Homo sapiens: one gene and its partner. The protein of the gene in region 1 binds, or shares a complex with, the protein of each later gene. Each region holds a gene or a part of one and is shown in the gene's direction. Other genes may lie near its edges.

Evidence for each region. The genes of interacting proteins can lie anywhere in the genome.
Region 2: the proteins of CLSPN (region 1) and CHEK1 are in contact, whole or in part, in a crystal structure (PDB 7AKO), measured with the Homo sapiens proteins. Residues at the interface, in NP_071394.2 of Homo sapiens: Glu938, Leu940, Leu941, Leu943, Cys944, Ser945, Gly946; in NP_001107593.1 of Homo sapiens: Lys53, Lys54, Cys57, Met61, Arg129, Thr153, Val154, Phe155, Arg156, Tyr157, Asn158, Arg160, Glu161, Arg162.

The regions. Positions count from the first base shown.
Region 1 is NC_000001.11:35,766,959-35,774,013, reverse strand, and holds the start of CLSPN (claspin), read left to right. Parts: upstream 1-4,035; 5' UTR 4,036-4,143; coding exon 4,144-4,167; intron 4,168-7,055.
Region 2 is NC_000011.10:125,620,562-125,628,185, forward strand, and holds the start of CHEK1 (serine/threonine-protein kinase Chk1), read left to right. Parts: upstream 1-4,601; 5' UTR 4,602-5,199; coding exon of another isoform or gene 5,200-5,451; exon of another isoform or gene 5,452-6,011; coding exon of another isoform or gene 6,012-6,014; exon of another isoform or gene 6,015-6,081; intron 6,082-6,187; coding exon of another isoform or gene 6,188-6,207; coding exon 6,208-6,272; intron 6,273-7,045; coding exon 7,046-7,269; intron 7,270-7,624. Other genes in the region: dolichyl-diphosphooligosaccharide--protein glycosyltransferase subunit STT3A, read left to right, coding at 211-249. UniProt on the Homo sapiens protein: Serine/threonine-protein kinase which is required for checkpoint-mediated cell cycle arrest and activation of DNA repair in response to the presence of DNA damage or unreplicated DNA.

The DNA.
Region 1 (7,055 bases):
AAGTTTATGAAGCCCTCTATGGGACAGGTTCAGACTAATCCCTGTAAAGTGAGCACTCCAGATGTTTCCTTTGTTGCCATTTATCAACTTGATAAACAAGGATTGTTGGATGACTACAACAATGAAGGGACAGAGAGGTCAAGGTGATTCACAGGTTTCTAAACTGGTGAGTGGATATGGTTCCACTCACCAAAATTGAGAATACAGGTTGCTAATTCTAAATACAGACTCACTTTATCTTGGCACAAGTTAATGTGTAAAATAAAAGTTTCCTGGGGATGGGAGGAGTATGAAGTTGTTGCTTAATGGGCATAGAGTTTCAGTTTTGCAAGATGAAAGGAGTTCTAGGCCAGGCCCGTTGGGTCACACCTGTAATCCCAGCGCTTTGGGAGGCCGAGGTGCATGGGTCACTTGAGGTCAGGAGTTCAAGACTAGCCTGGCCAACATGGTGAAACCCCGTCTCTCCTAAGAATACATACAAAAAAGTAGCCAGGCGTGGTGGCAGGTGCCTGTAATCCCAGCTACTTGGGAGGCTGAGGCAGGAGAATTGCTTGAACCCGGGAGGCAGAGGTTGCAGTGAGCCAAGATAGCACCATTGCATTCCAGCCTAGGCAACAAGAGCAAAACTCCATTTCAAAAAAAAAAAAGAAGAGAAAAAGAAAAGAATTCTGAAGATTGGTAGATTGGTTACATAACAATTTGAATGTACTTCTGAACTGCATACTTTAAAATGGTTAAGATGGTAAATTTCATGTTATATATGTTTTACCACAATAAAAATTGAATGAAAGGTTTTCCTTTCCTAGCTTACCCATGTCCACCCATTGTTCAAATTGGAGCTTTCTCTCTTAGCTTCTGTGATGAGTGAAAAGGTGCTCCCCAAAGATATTTTAAAATACTAATATAAGGAATATTATTTCACTCATTCATTTTCAGAGGGAGCTCAAGAAGTTGTCAAGTGAATGAATTAATTAGTTCAACAAATATTTATCAGTTTTCCTACCTTGAACCTGGGATGTTCTAAGTCCTTTGTTCTCAAAGTGTGGTCTCCAGATCAGCAACACTAGCATCACCAGGGAATTTGTTAGTAATATACATTCCTGTGGGGCACGGTGGTTCATGCCCGTAATCCCAGCACTTTGCGAGGCCGAGATGTGCAGGTTGCTTGAGTCCAGGAGTTTGAGACCAGCTTGGGCAACATGGTGACACCCCGTCTCTACAAAATAAAAAATTAGCTGGGCATGGTGGTGCACACCTGTAGTCCCAGCCACTTGGGAGGCTGAGGTGGAAGGGTTGCTTGAGCCTGGGAGGTTGAGGCTGCAGTGAGCTGTGATCATGCCACTGCACTCAGGGAGAAAAAGAAAAAAAGGAAAGAAAGAAGTATACATCTCTGGACCCCACTTCAGACATACTGAATCAGAAACTTTGGCACTAGGACCCAACAATAGCTGTTTTTACCAGCCTTTCAGATTATTCTGATGCATGCTCAAGTTTAAGAAAGACAATTCTAGGTTGCAATGATACAGAGGCCAAGAAAACAAAACGCCTGTTCTCTTGGAGCAACAACAGACAAATAGATATAAATAAAATTTCAGGCAAAGGAAAGTGTTATCAGGGAAACCAGCATAGGATAAGGAGGCAGAACACAGAGGATGCTCAGGCAGGGTCTTTCTGAGGGGTATGAGCTCTGAAGTCACATAGAGTCTGAAAATTGGCTCCACCAGTTTCTAGCCTTTTAAAAGTCTGGTTTCCTCATCTTCTAAGAAAGAGATAATAATATTACAAGTTTACTCTGAAGATTAAATAAGATAACACTTATAAAATCCTTGCAACTGTTTCTGCCACTGAGTAAGGCTTCAATAAACGTTAGCCCTCCATATATGATGGGGAGTGCCATAGATGTATACCTGGGAATCGTTGATGTAGAAATTAATAGTAAATGGATGAAAAGGTGGATAAACCAAGACACAAAAAGAGAAGAGGATGGATGATGGGCTCTTGTTGGTGGGGACAGAAGTGGATTGAGAGATGGTGGGGAAGTAAAGAAATGAAGATGTGGAGAGGGAGCTTTTTTCTGAACCCAGCTAAAGGTGGAAACTTGGAAGAGGAGGCCAGTGGATTGGGTGAAGAACCAACCATTTGGTATACCTGTGACTGAGGAGGTTCTCAGGATGCAGGACTTTTAGTGCTAAAACTAGGAAAGTCCTGGGCAAGCTGGGCCAAGCTGGCCACACTGGCAGTGGATATGACCATGGAGGGTGAAGTGAGCAATAAATACTCTGACCTTTCTTTCCTGGTGGCCTCTCATCTCCTTACAGTAACCTTATAAGGTGTCTTTACAGGGGCCTGACCCAACCAGAAGGGCAAGGGAGCTGGGATAATACAGTCTAGAGAGGTCAGCCTTGCCTTGACACACACCAGGGTAAAGGAAGGACAGAGAATTGACCTGGAGAGGCAAAAAATAATGGCCAGCACAGTGGCAAAACTGGGATTAGAATTGTCTGGGATAGGCCAGGTGCGGTGACTCACACCTGTAATCCCAGCACTTTGGGAGGCTGAGACGGGCGGATCACGAGGTCAGGAGTTCAAGATCAGCCTGGCCAAAATGGTGAAATCTTGTCTCTACTAAAGTTACAAAAAATTATCTGAGCGTGGTGGCACATGCCTATAATCCTAGCTACTCAGGAGGCTGAGGCAGGAGAATCGCTTGAACCCGGGAGGCGGAGGTTGCAGTGAGCCGAGATCACGCCATTGCACCCAGCCATGGTGACAGGGAGAGACTCTGTCTCAACAAAAAAAAAAAAAAAAAAAAAAGAACTGTGTCTGGGATAAACCTGATTTCAGAGCTTCAATTCTTTTTCCAGCCTTGTTTAAAGGTAGAATGCCCTCTAGGAGTGATGAGTGCTTTCTACATCCTCAAATTAACTCTACAGAGAATTATAAAGATTATCCAACCATATTCTTTGGTATCTGAGCAGCCCACAAAACTTTTTTCTTTAGAGACAAGGTCTCCCTCTATCGCCTACGCTGAAGTGCAGTGGTGCGATCATAACTCACTCTAACCTCAAACTCCTGGACTCAAGCCATCCTCCCACCTCGGCCTCCCAAAGCGTTGAGATTACAAGCGTGAGCCATGGAGCCCGGCCCTCTTTAAAAAATAAAAGTGGGCCGGGCACAGTGGCTCACGCCTGTGAGGGGTATGAGGCCTCCCAGCACTTTGGGAGGCCGAGGCGAGGATCATTTGAGATCAGGAGTTCGAGACCAGCCTGGCCAACATGGTGAAACCCCGTCTCTACTAAAAATACAAAAATTAGCCAGGGGTTGGTGGCGGGTGCCTGTAATCCTAGCTACTCAGGAGGCTGAGGCACGAGAATCGCTTGAACCCGGGAGGCGGAGGTTGCAGTGAGCCGAGATCGCGCCACTGCATTTCATCCTGGCTAACAGAGGGAGACTCCATCTCAAAAAAAAAAAAAGTGTGTGTGTATACACATACATGTGTATGTGTATATATGTGTATGTATATATGTGTGTACATATGTGTGTGTGTGTGTATATATATATATATATATATATATATATATATATATATATATTCAGTGGTAAGTGTCATGTACAAGAGGCACACAGGATCTAGCTGCTCCAGAAATGAAGTCAGTGGAGAAAATCCCCACGGGAACCTTGGAATTCCTCTAAAAAGTTCAGGTACAGGACACTCCCAGGTGCCCAGGAACCGTTTCCCAGCTCACTTCCCCCCGAAAGACTCACCCCTCCAATCGCACTCGATGCTTTGGCAAGTGTCAAAGGTCAAAGACCACGGCTCGCCTGGTACCGACTGCCCCGCCCCCGTGCACCTCCAGCTCCCCCAGGCTCCGCTACCAGCAGCTGCGACCCGCCAACTCAGCCTGGGTAATAGGAGATTGGGCGGCCAGAGGCGCTGCGTGATTGGTGGGTCGGAAGGGGGCGGGGACTCGCTGGAAAGCCCCCTCTGGATTGGTGCAAACCATCTGGGTGGGACCTCCACTCTGGCTGGGCGGGAAAGCAAGAACAGCACTGCTGGGCTGGAGACGGCGGGAGCCGCTGCTCTCCGGCTGAGGGAATCAGAGACAGCTCCGTCCCTAGTGGAGCGCAGGGGAGGCAGAAGTCATGACAGGCGAGGTGGGTTCTGAGGTGAGTTTATGCACACGCCCCCCACGGGGGCTTAGAAGGCCGGGCACCGAGAGGTTAGGTGGGGCCGGGGTAGACCCCGCTGACCCGAGGCGCCCGGGCGGGAGGACTGCGGCTCCCGGCGTTCGCCGCGCCGGCTCCCGCGGCCTCGAGACTCGGCCGGGATGGGTTCCGACCGGGCATCCCGTCCCGCCGCCGGGCTTCCCGCGCTTCGGGCTCCGTGGCCGGAGAGCTCCAGGTCTCTGCGGCGCGCACTGCCGGCAGCCCAGCCCCTCTTCAGCCGGTTCCTGCCGCCAGCCCTCCCCTTTGGCGCGTTTCCTGTCGCGGAAGCTCCTCCCCTCAGGGTGCTCTGAAAGCCGGGAGGCTCTAGCCGAACCCGGCCGCAGCGGTGCGGGGGGATTCTCCGCAGAGAGAGGGCGAGCGAGGGTGTTAGGGAGTTCCACACTGGGCCTGGGAGGGGCCCTGGAGGTCATCGCGCGCAGGCCCTTTGCGTTTTCCGACCGGGCCCCGAGTGGGGAAGTCACCGCTGGGGCTCCTGGCTGGTGGCTGGCAGCTCCCTGGCGAAATTGGGCATAGAAAACAGATGTTTCCAGAGCTGTGTCCTTTCTGGGCCGGATTCGGGCAAGGCACTCCCGCCTTAGGAGCAAAATTTAAAGGGGCGCCAAAACCCTCAATCAAACTCATATTTTAATGCAATATTTTTAAAAAACCAAAATTAATGCAAAAACTTTTTATGATTTGATATTGAACAAAATATCAGACGTTTAAACAAAGACGAGATCCGACCAGTCATTTGCACGACCTTGCCTCAATCACCTCACCCTAATTCCATCCCTGTTTCCAATAAACTTTATTTACAAAAGCGGGCATATTATTTACCTCATGAGCTGTAGATTATTGATTTAATTTTTTAAAAAATATTGCATTAATGTTATTCATTTTGATTACTGAATTTTTTGAGACCTCACCCCACCCTGTTACTGGCCCTGCCCTTTGACGTTGCTGCAAATTGCCTAGAAGATAATCGTCATTCAAAGCAGCCCTATTCCTTGAGCTGTCTGGTTACCTAAATTCGGTTTCCACACTCACAAACAGAAGTAATAGTTTTACTGCTTTGGATTGTTGAGAGGATCATCAGTGCATACATATTAATTCTCAGCAATCCCAGCACTTCGGGAGGCTAAGGCCGGCAGATTGCTTGAGCTCAAGAGTTCGAAACCAGCCTGCATAGAAAACATGGCAAAACCCCGCCTCTACAAAAAAAAAAAAATTAGCCGGGCGTCGCCTGTGGTCCCAGCTACTCGGTCCCAGCTACTCGGGTGGCTGAGGTGAGAGAATCCTTTGGGCCTGGGAGGTCAAGGCTGCAGTGAGCCATGATCCTGCCACTGCACTCCAGCCTAGGTGACAGAGTGAGACACTGTATCAAAAAAAAAAAAAATTTGTACCTTGCATTCAAATCAATTTAATAATTTTTTTTTTTTTGAGACGGAGTCTCGCTCTGTTGCCCAGACTGGAGTGCAGTGGCACAATCTCGGCTCACTGCAACTTCTGTCTCCTGGATTCAAGCGATTCTCCTGCCCCAGCCTCCTGAGCAGCTGGGACTACAGGCACACACCACCACGCCCAGCTAATTTTTGTATTTTTAGTAGATACGGGGTTTTACTGTATTGGCCAGGCTAGTCTCGAACTCCTGACCTTGTGATCCACCCACCTCGGCCTCCCAAAGTGCTGGGATTACAGGCGTGAGCCACCATGCCTGACCAATTTAATAATTTTTTGAGAAACCACTCAGCTGAGGCCTTGTGCCCTGTTACATTACTGATGTTCATATTTCTCCCTTTATTAATAAGTTGATTCAGAGCCCTGAGAACACTAAGGAGGTAGACTTGGCATCTAGGGTTAGCTTTAAGGTCACTAACTGATCAAGTCACCTAACACACCCCTCCTCCTTAGGTTTTTATTTGCGACTTTTTAAACTGTCTTATTTAGAAATTTTCAAACCTATACAACCGTAGAAAGGATGGTATAATGAACCCATCACCTTACTTCAACTACAGTTTGAATATCTCTCGTCTGAAATGCTTGGGACCAGAAGCGTTTTGAATTTCAGATTCATTTTGGATTTTGGAATATTCGCATACACATAATGAGATATCTTGGGGGAGGGACCCAAGTCTAAACATGAAATTCAGTTATATTTCATATATACCTTACACACATAGTCTGAAGGTAATTTTATACAGCATTTTAAAATAATTTCGTGCATGAAGCAAAGGTTTTACTGCAGCTCATCATATGAGGTCAGGTGTGGAATTTTCATCTAGTGGCATCATGTCAGTGCTCAAATATTTTGGAATTGGGAGCATTTCAGATTTTCAGGTTAGAGATGTTCAACCTGTATTTTCAAGTCATGGCCAATCTTGTTTTATTCATACAGCTACCCATTTTTCCTCTCACAGGATTATTTGGAAGAAAATCCAAGATATCATATTATTTGAACCACAAAGATTTTAGTGTGCATATCTAACAAACAAGAGCTTTCCAAAAATAGATACTACGATATTATTACCACACCTAAGAAGTATCTAGTCAGTGTTCAGATTTCTTTGACTCAGAGATATTTCATTTATTTTTATATGCCACTTTAGCATAATTATTTACATTTTTAGTTTTTTGAATCATCATCCGAAGTTGGCATTTTGTAATTGTTTATATTATATATGTGTATATATGCATATATGTATGTATTTTAAGATATACATACATATATAAAGCATACATTTATGTATATAGAAATATACAGGGCCGGTTGTGGTGGCTTACGCTTGTAATTCCAGCATTTTGGGAGGCTGAGGCAGGCGGATCACCTGAGGTCAAAAGTTCGAGACCAG
Region 2 (7,624 bases), on another chromosome or scaffold:
GTAGATCAGTAATATTGGTCCTCACAGAGGTATTCCAAAAGGCTAAGCAGAGAGAATCTAGTCTCTAGTCAGTGCTTGTGTATTCACAGCCCTAAACCAGGCTGCAGAACCCAACATAATCCTGCCCACTCTGGGTGAATCCATTTTAGTAGAAAATTTCTCCAAAGTTGATCTGATTGTAAATATTAAACTGACATCTTTATGTTGCAGGTAAAGGACCTGGATAATCGAGGCTTGTCAAGGACATAAATGTCACGTCCAGCTCTGATATGCTTCGCACTGAGCACATCACATTTAGGACGTTGAAGATTTTTTTTTTTTTTTTTTTTTAATATGCAGTTTGTAAGAACAAAACTGGATGGCATCAGAATTGTCTGGAAGTTTTGTCTTGGGCAGTATGGGCTGGGCCAAATGAAATGATTTTTATAATTCTAAACAGGTTACCAAATGAAATGTCATGGCTTTACTTTGGTCAATTAAAGGGGGGAATTTTTTTAAAAAATGTGCCTTATTTGTTTTGACTTATAACTGATTTGAGGGAGGCAAAAGCTATGCTAGGCTGCCAGAAGGACATAAGCAGACCTTGTCCATTCTCTTAGCTCCCTAAATTAGCCAAATAGAGACTTCTTTCTCAAATCAGGAAAACTATCAAAGACCAATTCAGATCCTACATTTACAGACAGTTTTGTCATAACCCTTTGCATTGCAGCACCTAGTACAATTCCTTGGAAACAGCGTGGCTCAATAAATTTTTATTGAATGAATAAATGTGGGACCAGAAGAGTGCTAGAAGAGTGCCTTTCTGGGCTACTATGTCTCTGTTCTCAATGTCTTTTATCCTTAGACGCTCTTTGACTTTATAAATCAGCAGTTTTGAAGACTCAAGACAAACAGTGAAATTATTGGTTTATCAATGGAGAGGAAGAAACTCTTCCAGCATTACATATAGAGCTTGATGGTCAGTAGGTGTTTTTGAATCAGCTTAAATATAATCATACATATCAATTTGAAATGGAGCTTTTCAGTACTCTCACTTATTCATGACACAGGAATGACCCTTTACTCAAAACTCTTGTGGTTGTTCAAAGGTGAGCTTCTTTTTCCCTTAGTCTTAGCCTATGTGTTGCTGTTGTATATTGTTACCAAGTTCAACTACCTAATTTTGAAGCTCTTTCCAAATAAGATACAAATTAAAAGGGGAAGCATTGCCAGTAACAGGTCCCTAGAGAGCAGTGCCAGCCTGCCTGCAAGAAAAGAGGAGAAACTTCTTAAAAAGTTTTAAGCCTGGGCAACATAAGGAGATTGTTTCTATGAAAAATAAAAATTAGCCAGGTATGGTGGTGTACACCTGTAGTCCCAGCTACTCGGGAAGATGAGATTGGAGGATCACTTGGGCCTGGGAGGTTGAGGCTACAGTGAACTGTGATTGTGCCACTGTACTCCAGTCTGGGCGACAGTGAAATCTTGTCTAAACAAAAACAATTTAACTGGGAAGCACAGTGGTCCTTGAGGACATTTAATATCAGGACAAAGAGCCTATGAATATATCACTGATGTATATAAACCCTAAGGCGTTAATAAAAGCTAACTGTTTAGTGTTATCCATTTAAGGGAACAGGAGGAATTGCATAACTTTTAGATTAGTCATAGTGGTGCTCCTAAGGGATATGCTGTTGTATATTTGTATAGCCAGGGCACTTAGCCTTCCAAACCAATTTATATACCATGTTCTTCAACTGTGGGTGAGATTTAGCCTCAAGATTTGATTTACTATATGTAAGTACATTACTTGATTTCTATAAAGAATCTTTAGTGGAAGAGGTTATTCTGAATTATTTATCAATATGATTAATACCAGTTAGAAATTATTAATGATCTTCCTTTATACTATACATAGGATAACTTTTAACTTGTCGCTACAGTTGTTGCTCTGAGGATCTTAATTTTGTTACTTTCTAGGCTACATGAAGCTATCTTTTTAAAAAGTGTACTCTTCATTTTCACTGTTATTGTGTACTTAGCATAAAAAACTCAAATCTAGGCCAGGTGCAGTGGCTCATGCCTGTAATCCCAGCACTTTGGGAGGCTGAAGCATGCGGATCACTTGAGCCCAGGAGTTCAAGACCAGCCTGGGCAACATGGCTAATGAACACTAAGCATAGTTTTGATGTCTTTCATATTAAAGACTTTCTCAAATTCTTGCTAGTCTGCTCCTCTTTAAGAGTGGGACCCTAGGCAGGGCGCAGTGGATCATGCCTGTAATCCCAGCACTTTGGGAGGCCGAGGCAGGCAGATCACTTGAGGCCAGGAGTTTGAGACCGGCCTGGCAACGTGGGAAAACTCTGTCTCTACTAAAAATACAAAAATTAGCTGGGTGTGGGGTACACACCCTGTAATCTCAGCTACTGGGGAGGCTGAGGCATGAGAATTGCCCAGGAGGTGGAGGTTGCAGTGAGCAGACATCATGCCACTGCACTCCAACCTGGGAGACAGAGCAAGACTGTCTCAAAAAAAAAAAAAAAAAAAAAAAAGAGTGGGACCCAAAAAAGCTGATTGAAAGGTCTGTTTGTAGGGGGTGTAGATGGGGATTAATAATGTGGGTTTCAATCTACTGTGATCTGGCTGGGCTGTTACATTGGGAAATCCATGATACTGATTTTTAGATTTTTATCTTTTGCATAGGTAAGATTCCCTTGAGAAGGCTTGCATATTCTCTTACTCAAGGATGTAAGCCAGGCAGTCAGCTTTCTGGGAGTAGAGTAGGGAAAGAAGTTGTAACAGGCTCAACCTTCAGTGGATAAAACTTAAACTTAATCCCTCCGTTTTCAGTAAGGTGCCCAAGCTTTTAACTGTGCCTAATGGTCTCCAGTTCACATACTGTGCATTTACCCTCTTAAATCTCGTACCAGCTTTGGGGAGGGACAGTTCCTTGGTTACATAGAAAGGGAAGGGATACGGGGATCTATTTGTTTTTTATGTAGCCTTTAAACCTACCCCTTTTAGCCCCATTTTTACCTCCACCTTCAGTTACCTGGTGTCACCAGTTCAACTTGAGCTTTTTCAGAGTTCTGTGATGTTAATTCTGCTTTCCATTGCTAGCTTTGGGATTCATCTTCATTACCTTTCATCTAAAGGCTTTCTGCTTTCCAAAATGTGTCTCATACTCTGTTCTTATGGGTTCTTTTAAATATTGGTATCCTTTACTATTAAAATATTTTAGTGGGCTTTCAGAAGAGAATAGAGGCTATTTCTATGTATTCTGTCTTTAACTGGTATTCTGCTGGAGTCTGTATATCTTTTTTTTTTTTTTTTTCAGGCTAAAAAGACTCCATCAGACACACAGGAAATTTGCAGGTCTTCCTCTTCGTATTCTTTGTTTTCAGCACACAGTGAGGAAACAAGAGAAAATGGGATAAATGATATAAAAACTTGCTTTTATTTTTATACCAGGCCCTGTGGCTCGCTTCTGTAATCCCAGTGACTTGGGATGCTGAGGTAGGAGGATCACTTGAGCTCAGGAGTTCCAGGCTGCAGTGAGCTAAGACTGCCCAATTGCACTCCAGCCTGGGTGACAGAGCAACACACCCTGTCTCCAAAAACAACAAACTGTAAAAAGATTACATGAAGCCTAATCTGTGATGTCATGATTCAAAACTATACACATAAGCATTTTAAGAGTTTTTTCCTTGATTTTTGTTCCTGACTTTGCTTCTTTAAAAGAAATGTGTGTTTTTGTTGTTGGTTGTTTGTTTTTGAGACGGAGTCTTGCTCTGTTGCCCAGGCTGGAGTGCAGTGGCACAATCTCTGCTCACTGCAGCCTCTGCCTCCTGGGTAGCTGGGATTACAGGCACTCGCCATCGTGCCCGGCTAATTTTTGTATTTTTAGTAGAGACGGGGGTTTCACCATGTTGGCCAGGCTGGTCTTGAACTGCTGACCTCAGGTGATCCATACGCCTCAGCTTCCCAAAGTGTTGGGATTACACGTGTGAGCCACCAGGCCCCGGCCTTGAGTAACATTTTATACTTGTTTCACTTTACTATTATCATAATAGCCAGTTATGCTTAGTGTTTGTATGTGGCCCAGTCTTAAGGACTAAGAAAATATATATGTATATATATAAAATATATACATATAAAAAAATATGTTTTTTTCCTACGGAATCATGCTGTTGCCCAGGCTGGAGTGCAGTAGTGCTCACTAACCTCTAACTCCTGGACTCAAACGATTGTTCTGCTTAGGCCTCCCAAGTAGCTAGGGCTACAGGGACACACCACCAAGCCCGACTAATTCCTAAATTTTTTTATTTGTAGAGATGGGGTCTCCCTATGTTCCCCAGGCTGGTCCTGAACTCCTGGCCTCAAGCCATTCTCCTGCCTCGCCTTCCCAAAGTGCTGGAATTACAGGCAGGAGCCACTGCGCCCGGCCAGTGCTGGAGAATGTAATGGAGATGATCCTGCCTATCCCTGAGTTCCAGTCTAGTTTACTGTCAGAGAATACTTATTTCCATTTTTCCTATTTTGTTCTTGAGTCTCTTTCCTCAGAATTTACTTTTCCACTTAAATGACGTACGCAGCTTTTAAATTTGCGTTGTAAGATTTATTTTGGCTCTCCCCGCCTGTTCTTTGCACATTAAAAATGAAAAAGTTTGTAGAACTAAGCTAAGCAGATGGTCTTCCTGCAAAAAGACCGGGCTGAAGTAAAGCATTGTTTTGGAGCTGGTTCACAGAAAAAAGGCAAAACTGGTTATCCTGACTTCAAGCTCCAACATAAACTGCTCGCTTTCTCCGGGAAACTTGCCCCGCCACACACACTTGACTGCGTGGCCAGTTCTTTCGAAGCCTCTCGCTCCCAACACGGAGTTCCTCCCATTTCTTCACAGTCGGCTCTCAGCAGCTGCTGCTGGTTTCTCGGCTCCAGCACCACGAGTACCGCACTCTGAGGTTTACAAAGCACTCTGCTTCACCGACTGTGATCCTCACAGTCCTGTCCGGTGGCCTCACGCAGGTGGCGGTGCAGCCTTTCAGGCCCAGAGCGGCCAGGAGCGAAGCCCGCAGCCCCGCCTGGAAGCGCAGCGCGGTCGGTCGCGCGCCCCTGAGGCTTGGAGGCCTGGGCTTCCCCCAGCAGCGCTCGAGCACCGCCCAGTCGAGCCTCACACCGGATGCCACTTCATATTTGGGCCCAGAGCTCAATTCGCGCCGATGCGGTCCGCCGTCCTTAAATCTCTTCAGCCAGGATCTCTCCCCGACTGCAAAGCAGCCCTGGGCGGGAGCGGCAACATCTCCACGTCACCCTTTTGGAGCCGCCGACATTCAGAGGGGCAGGACACGGGAACGCGCGCTGTCTTGCTTTACGGCGCGGGTGCGCGAGTTTGCGGCAGCGTGACGCCCTCAAGTTTTGGCGGGAAAAGCGCTGCATTTGGATTCCTGCAGTGGTGGGCAAAGGACAGTCCGGTGAGGAAGGGCGGCCGGTAGAGTAGGGAAGGTTTCTAAAGAAGGAGTTCGGGGTCTAGATTAGTGAGGGAGGGCATGGTGGGAGAAAGTTAGCATTGACTAGCGCAGGGGATTGGAGAGACTCCTGCGGAGGGGCGGTTTCGGAGGGTGGAGGAATGGTACCAGGAGGTTCCCGTTGTGGGGGCGGGGGCAGGAGGGACTAACCCGCTGCTAGCTAAGAACCCCAAGGAAGAGTCCCAGCCCTTCCTTTCGCCTCTGGGGGCAGTTTGGCCCCGCCCCGGCCTTTGGGACGGGTGGGGCTGTGGATGGGGATGGGAATTGGAATTGAGCAATTGGGAGGAGGCGCTGCCGCAGGCGTTTTCTGCCCCATACCGCTCCCTATATCCTCTTCCTCTCTTCCCCAGACCCCCACCTCTCCCTCCTCCTTCCCCAGTCGTTCGCCGGAAAGCATTTGTCTCCCACCTCTTCATAACAACAATTAATTTCCTCTGGGGCCTGAGGAGGGCAGAATTTCAACCTTCGGTGTGCTTGGGAGTGGCGATTGTGATTTACACGACAAAATGGTCAGGTTTAGAATAGTTGTTCGTGGTTGAAAGACTTGGATAAATGTGGATGAGATAGAAGGGGAAGGCAAGAGCTGTTAATTTTCGTGGGCAATCCTGGGGAGAGGCGGGGCTCAGTGGCTTCACTGGTGATCTTACACTCTACATCTTTTCTGGATTCCTGCCTTTTACAGCCGAGGTGCTCGGTGGAGTCATGGCAGTGCCCTTTGTGGAAGACTGGGACTTGGTGCAAACCCTGGGAGAAGGTGCCTATGGAGAGTGAGTTCTTTTAAGCTTGCCTTCGTTTTCTGAGTGCATATTCATTGTTTTGGAGTCTCACACTCTGGTGATTTAGAAAGTAGATGTTTGAGATCCAAGGGTTTTGGCAACTGAAGTTACACAGCCTTTTGCTAGGATTAAAAATTTTTTCCTTCCCTTTAAAAAAAAAAGTTTTCTTTGTAGAGAGCTGGAAGGGACACGAAGTTATTGTTTCCATGCCCACAAATTGCTTCTCAGGGTTTAAGCATTGCGGTTAATGAGCAAATGAGCAGACTCTGGAGATTGCCTGCCTGGTTTCAGATCCTTGCTCTATCACATACTGGTCATTGTTTTGTGATCTTAGGCAAGCTTCTTAATGTCATTGTGTACCTCTCCTTCACTACCTTTAGGGTGGCAATAATCGCATCTACCCCATAGGAGCTTAGGACAGTCAGTTACACAAGCACATATAGTATGGGATTAATGCTCTTAAAAGTATATGAGTAGAACATGTATATATGTGATGTGGCTTAGAATTATCTCAATCTATTTTATGAAGCGTTTATTAAATGACTTGTGTGACAGCATAATGACGTCTTTGGAGGGTTAGCTATTGTATTTCACATTTTAGAAAAGAGTAGTGTGTGTTGAGAACATAGCAGAAACCACTTCCTTGGTTTCTCCTTTGTGGAAAAAGTAATAGAGGTAAAATCGTTTTGGATGAGTCATGTTTAATCTTTGGAAGTTTTAGAAGAAATGGAATTCTGTAATGTTAAAACTCTTTTCCTTTTTAGAGTTCAACTTGCTGTGAATAGAGTAACTGAAGAAGCAGTCGCAGTGAAGATTGTAGATATGAAGCGTGCCGTAGACTGTCCAGAAAATATTAAGAAAGAGATCTGTATCAATAAAATGCTAAATCATGAAAATGTAGTAAAATTCTATGGTCACAGGAGAGAAGGCAATATCCAATATTTATTTCTGGAGTACTGTAGTGGAGGAGAGCTTTTTGACAGAATAGGTATGGAAGAAATTTAAGATAATTATTTTAAACAAGTTTTTAAATTTGTTTTTTAAATCTTGGGCATGCTATTTGGTCGTTGTCCTTTCAAAATTGCTCATGCAACTGTGAAATTGGAATACATTATCTTTAAAAAATTTTTCCACCTGGTGTTAATAACATAAAAGCATATATAGAGTCAATGAAAGAAAACTTCTTTCCCAAGTTATATAAGTGATTTTGATTTAAGATTGGTGTCTTACAGAATTTAAGAGTGACAAACAAGTTTTATGGTACATCATAAATGCAGTGTATCCTAAATGCAATGTATTGCCTACACAATTTTTTCTTTGTAGACATTCTAGTTACATGAAAT